Regions from separate parts of the Homo sapiens genome. Here region 1 is linked to region 2. The links come from fine-mapping of genetic effects on gene expression. A gene starts in region 2. The other region holds a variant in brackets. All regions are shown on one strand. Distances are between the middles of the regions.

The links.
Region 1: its variant is fine-mapped to the expression of SRP54 in stomach (GTEx, PIP above 0.99).

What each region holds. Positions count from the first base shown.
Region 1 is chr14:34,926,377-34,929,288 of GRCh38, forward strand. All of the region lies in intron 2 of SRP54-AS1 (SRP54 antisense RNA 1), which reads right to left. Among named protein-coding and RNA genes, the nearest start is that of BAZ1A, 52 kb to the left of the region's middle. The variant G/A (reference allele first, on the strand shown) is at 1,213.
Region 2 is chr14:34,981,314-34,984,225 of GRCh38, forward strand. It overlaps SRP54 (signal recognition particle 54), which reads left to right and starts at 1,679. Exons shown (of 16, transcript NM_003136.4): 1 at 1,679-1,902. It overlaps SRP54-AS1 (SRP54 antisense RNA 1), which reads right to left and starts at 1,253. Exons shown (of 5, transcript NR_151701.1): 1 at 1,111-1,253. RefSeq lists enhancers at 830-879, 998-1,699, 1,090-1,179, 1,360-1,859, 1,890-2,149.

The sequences.
Region 1 (2,912 bases), 55 kb before region 2:
AACATTTACCTGCTTTTGTGGGTCAAAGTCATTCAAGCAAGGTCTAACTGCATCATAATCTGCTCCACAGTTTTTCATTTGGTCCACAAGTAGTTTCATGCTTTACATTCTTTGTATAGCATTTTCCAGACTACGAATATGCTAATCTTATCTGAAAAATAAAGTTAGTGTGGCTTAACCTGTTTTTGGTAAACTTAGGCTGGCTCTAAATGATCATGTCTTTTCCTTAAGTACTCTCAAATCACCTATGAAAATCCAATCTAGACTTGTTCCTGGCATTAATGTTAAGTTTGCCAGAATATGTCTTCCTTCCTTGTCAAAAATCTTGCTGTTCTGACTTTACAGTCTTTTGACCCCTCTATTCTTATAATTCCTCAACTATGAATCACTGTGATGACATAAGTAAGGAGATGGAAGAACTGTACATTATAACAAAAGTATTCTGCATATTTTAAAAATGCCATGTAAAAAAAGATTGATAAAGCAAATATTCTCTTATCTATAGCTCTCTAAACACTATTATTGTACTTATTGGAGTAAATCCCAAAATTTAGTCCAGTTTGTTGTATGTGCGTACAAATGTTGGCTAATTTAAAATACAGAAGATATATAATAGAAACTTTTCTCATTAAAGTCTTCTTAACAACAGGGAAAAATAAATATTACCTATTCCAACCTTCTGCAAAAGGTCTGGAGGTCATTACGGCCCTAAGATGTTCACTTTATCCAGGTCCCATTTTTAGTTTTAAAAAATTCATGGACGCATCACTTTGGGAAGCCGAGGTGGGCGGATCACGAGGTCTGGAGATCAAGACTATCCTGGCTAACACAGTGAAACCCTATCTCTACTAAAAATACAAAAAATTAGCTGGGACTACAGGGGCGTGGTTGCACGCGTCTGTAGTCCCAGCTACTCGGGAGGCTGAGGCAGGAGAATTGCTTGAACCCGGGAGACTGAGGTTGCAGTGAACCGAGATCGCGCGCTGCACTACAGCCTGGGCGACAGAGCGAGATTCTGTCTCAAAAAAAAAAATTCATGGACTATTTTGAGGAAATAGATGTATTCATGATCTTGACTGTGGTACTGATATGGGTGTATACATGTCAAAACGCATCAAATTATACAGTTTATTGCATGTCATGAGCTTTTTTTTTTTACAATTTTATTCTCTTAAAATTTTATTGTAAAAAGATTTAAGCCCATGAAAGAAT[G/A]AGTGAACTATAATTACATAAAACAACACAGATTAACTTCACAAACATAATGTTGAACAAAGGCTGGAAACAGGCCGGGTGCAGTGGCTCACGCCTGTAATCCCAGCACTTTGGGAGGCCGAGGTGGGTGGATCACCTGAGGACAGAAGTTCGAGACCAGCCTGGCCAACATGGCGAAACCCTGTCTCTACCAAAAATACAAAAATCAGCTGGGCGTGGTGGCGGGTGCCTGTAGTCCCAGCTACTCAGGAGGCTGAGGCAGGAGAATTGCTTGAACCCGGGAGGCAGAGGTTACAGTGAGCCGAGATCATGACACTGCACTCTAGCCTGGGTGACAGAATGAGACTCCATCTCAAACAAAAATAATAATTAAAAAGAAAGAAAAAAAGAAAGAGGCCAGATACAAGGAGTACCCCATGTGTGATTCACTCTTAAAAGATGGTAGTATAAGGCAGTCTTCTGGGGTGGTAGTGATTTTCTGTTTCTTGAGCTGGATTATCATATGGGTATATTTACTTCATGGAAATTCATTGAGCTGTGCAGTTAAGACTTGTCCACTTTTCTGTATGTTATTCTTCAGTAAAACATTTACCATGAAGAGTGAGGCACATGTGCTATAATAAACGGGAAAGAATATGAAAATCAACTGTCTCAATAAAAAATTTACAACTGATATTGCACTATAATTATGTAAGACCTGACCATTAGGAGAAACTGGGTGAAGGGTACAGAGAACCTCTCTGCACTAATTTTTCAACCTCCTGTGAATCTATAATTATTTCCAAATGTAAAAATACTATTAACACTGATATTTTAGTGTGTGAACCCCAATTAGATTTTCTTTTCTTTTTTCTTTTTTTTTTTTTTTTGAGATGAAGTCTGGCTCTGTTGCCCAGGCTGGAGTGCAGTGGCACAATCTTGGCTCACTGCAACCTCCACCTCCCAGGTTCAAGTGATTCTCCTGCCTCAGCCTCCCAAGTAGCTGGGACTAAAGGCACATGCCACCACGCCCAGCTAATTTTTTGTATTTTTAGTAGAGATGGGGTTTCACTGTGTTAGCCAGGATCGTCTTGATCTCCTGACTTTGTGATCCACCTGCCTTGGCCTCCCAAAGTGCTGGGATTACAGACGTGAGCCACCATGCCCAGCCTAGATTTTCTTTCTTTTTTTTTTTTTTTTTGGAAACGGAGCCTCACTCTGTCTTCTGTTGCCCCAGCTGGAGTGCAGTGGCGCCATCTCGGCCACTGCAACCTCCGTCTCATGGGTTCAAGTGATTCTCTTGCCTCAGCCTCCCGAGTAGCTGGGATTACAGGCACATGCCACCACGCCCAGCTAATTTTTCTATTTTTAGTAGAGACAGGGTTTCACCATGTTGGTCAGGCTGGTCTCGAACTCCTGACCTCGTGATCCGCCCACCTCGGCCTCCCAAAGTGCTGGGATTACAGGCATGAGCCACCGTGCCTGGCCCCAGCCTAGATTTTCTACTTATATCCTCCTTCTAAAAGTTTCCCTTTCCTGCCTACTCCTCAGAATTGAAGTGAAAATCATCATTTTCAATAGAGGTTGTCCCAAATATAGATGACAGTTGATAAGTCCTGGGATGGACATCTGCCCCAATGTGGGCCGGTTGGAGCCTTTTCCTGAGACATGGCATTTGGACTGAGAAACAGCCATTTCTTTTCCTGTGTCCACACTGTAAT
Region 2 (2,912 bases):
CCAGAATACATCTATCCCATTTTTCAGTAACTAGATCTAGCTACCACATTTCCTCAGTTTTAACGTGTGTGTTTAAAGAGACAGGGTCTTGCGTCGCTCAGGCTGGAGTGAAGCAGCGGGATCAAAGCTCACTGCAGCCTTTTTCTGTCTATAAATCTTCAACACTTGGCTGCGCTGCAATCTCTCTGAGCCTGCCCGATTCGTGAATCATTCTTTGCTCAAAATGTTAAATTTAACTTGGCTAAGGTTTTTCGTTTAACACTTCCTACTAACGCTACAGCCTAAAACCTCTCCTGCAAAATGCTTTTTCAGGTGGCAACGTACCAATTCTAACAAGTTTGTGGGAGTAATGGGGAGGAGGGCTAACCCTCTATTTTCTTTCAGAAAAAGGGTTAGGCACAAGGAGCTCTAAAGGCTTGTCCGAAGTCTGCTGAAAACTCACAAACCACTCAGAACCAGGTTTCCCACACCCAATTAATTCCAAGTGGTACTGTATCCGATTACCCCCATTTTCCAAGAGATAGTTTATTTTTTCCCCTCTTTTCCCCTCCCCACTACACTTTCCACTTAGCCCTTTTTGAACTGCAAAATAACCTCTCAACTCCCCTCACCAGACCATTCTCTACAGAGCAAATTCATCTACGAGATCCAAGACGCAACTCCCACCGCCAGGCGGTCGCCTCAGAAGGGTAAGCAGAAAGCATGCCCACTTGGCCACTTTTACAACTTATTTCTGCTCAGAAATGCACCAACTCAACTACCCGGTAGATAAGGCACCAGCTAGCAGAGACCTCTTGCTCATTTCCTCTTGTACCTTATAAAATGCCCGCTTTTTTGCTCCAAAGACGAAGCGGGCTGGCTTCAGAAATAAAATCCCTCTTCTTGTATACTAGGGCTCGCTCTTGTTAATTGGTGTCTACGTGTGGCGAGCAACTAACTCTCTTTTCCGTTAGAGCACTCAAAGCCCTGGTCAATCTACCCCCCAAGACAGCAGAGACCAGCACAACGATCCCAAGGAAGGCTGTTGGCTTCACCCCGCTTAAGTCCTCAAAGTCAGCGCCTGCAGCATATCCTTGCCCCCACCACCTGCCTCTAGCTCTGGTCACTTACACTTACGGTTAGTTCGCATCCACTGTAACAGCGCCTGGCGGTCGGCAGGAGCCACAGTGCGAAGCGGCCGCAGCATCACTGCCTGCCTCGCAGTGGGAAATTTTACCTTGCTGGAGCAAGCCGCGCAGGCACTGGCTGGCATTGCGCATGCGCAAGCAGAGACCGCCCCACCCTCCGCGGAACAAGCCTCCGGTCTGCAAAGCCCTAAGCCCCGCCCCTCTACGGAGGTCTCACGTGCGCCTGGGGATCCCTGCCTTCAGTCACACCTCTATCTCTCATCTTTCCGCTCTTAGCTGGGAGTGCTCCGCCTAGTCACTTTTCTTAAGGTGGCTCGTCGAGGCCTGACTTCTTCCCCGAAATCACGTCCCTAGACAGCCTCCTATTTTACCACTAACTTTACTCCTGCAGTTATTCAGCGGTAGGAAACTGAAACCAAAAACCAGTGTAAGCAAGTAAACATCTAAACTGTTTCAGGAGCCGCGTAGAAGGAACGCGGCGGTGTGCCCCGGAAGCGGAAGTAGATTCTCCTATAGAAAGGCTGGACTACGCGGAGTGGTGACGTTTCCTCATTGGGCGGAAGGTTCGCTGGCACTCCGTTGGTCTTCCAGCTGGTGGGAGTTGACGACGTGGTGCTGGGCGTTGGGACCCTACTTTATCTAGTTCGGGAAGTTGGGTTGTGGGGTCATACCTGTCTGTCTGCTCCCAGCTTTCTTGGGTTTCTTCCGACGGCGTGGGGCCTCGCTAAGGAATTCCCGGCCCCTCAGGGCCACGGCTTTAGCGGTGTCTTTTGCGGTAAGTGTCTGCTTTTTCCCGCCCCAGACTACGGAGGGGGAGCGAGGGGCAGCCCCAGCGCTGCTCAGGAGGCGAGAGACTCCGGGGGAAGTCGGCCTCCGTGGCCACCGGCCATCGTTACCGAGACTGAGTTTCTGTGGCTCTTTATCTCGTCTTCCATGAGAAGTTTTATTAAAGATGCGCTGTGCCCCTTTTGAGTTGTCTTCCGATTTACCTGAGCCAAATAAGATGTAGGCAGTTGCAGGCCTGAGTCTTCGTTTTGCTTTCCTGAGCAAGAATTTAGATGAAGCTACTTCCCCGAAAATCCTTTTACTTGTACGAGACTTTTATTTTTCCTATGTGTTTGTAGTGCTTAACACAATGTCCTGCGTGTAGTAGACGTTCAATAAACGAATATGGAATATCAGTTGAATGCCAATGATGATTTAAGATAGACTGATAGCTCTCTCTGTACCATTTGACGCTGCTGACCATCCATTTCTTGAAACTTTCCCCTGCTGCCTTTCTTCATGCTATCCTCACCTGATTCTTTCACATGCTTAATTTAACAAAATATATACTTGTTCTTGGCTACAAGGATACAGAAATGAATAACACTAACTCTGCCATTGAGAAGCTAACGCACATAAATACACATTATATCAAGATGGGTAATGAGAAACACTAGTTGCATATAAAGAGCTGTAGAAAGCTGTGGGAGAGCTAAAGTGCTCCTTAGGTGCTTTGTGACCCTGAGCCAGTTTCTATTCCAATCTAGCCTCAATTTCCTCATCTACTTAATAGGCTTGTTTTGAGGAAGAAAGGAGATTAGGTAAGAGGTTTGGTTTGGTTTAGTGCCTAGAATACAGCAATCGTGGTGCCAAAGGGGAGGGAAATATTTCCCTCAAATCGCTTTTTCTCAGTTTTTTGATATGGCCAACTGGTATTTTCTACCTTAATATAGAGTACTATGCAAAAGCATCTTCAAGTCTTCCTTCCAGATTACTCCTCTGTCCCCATCTATTTGGAAA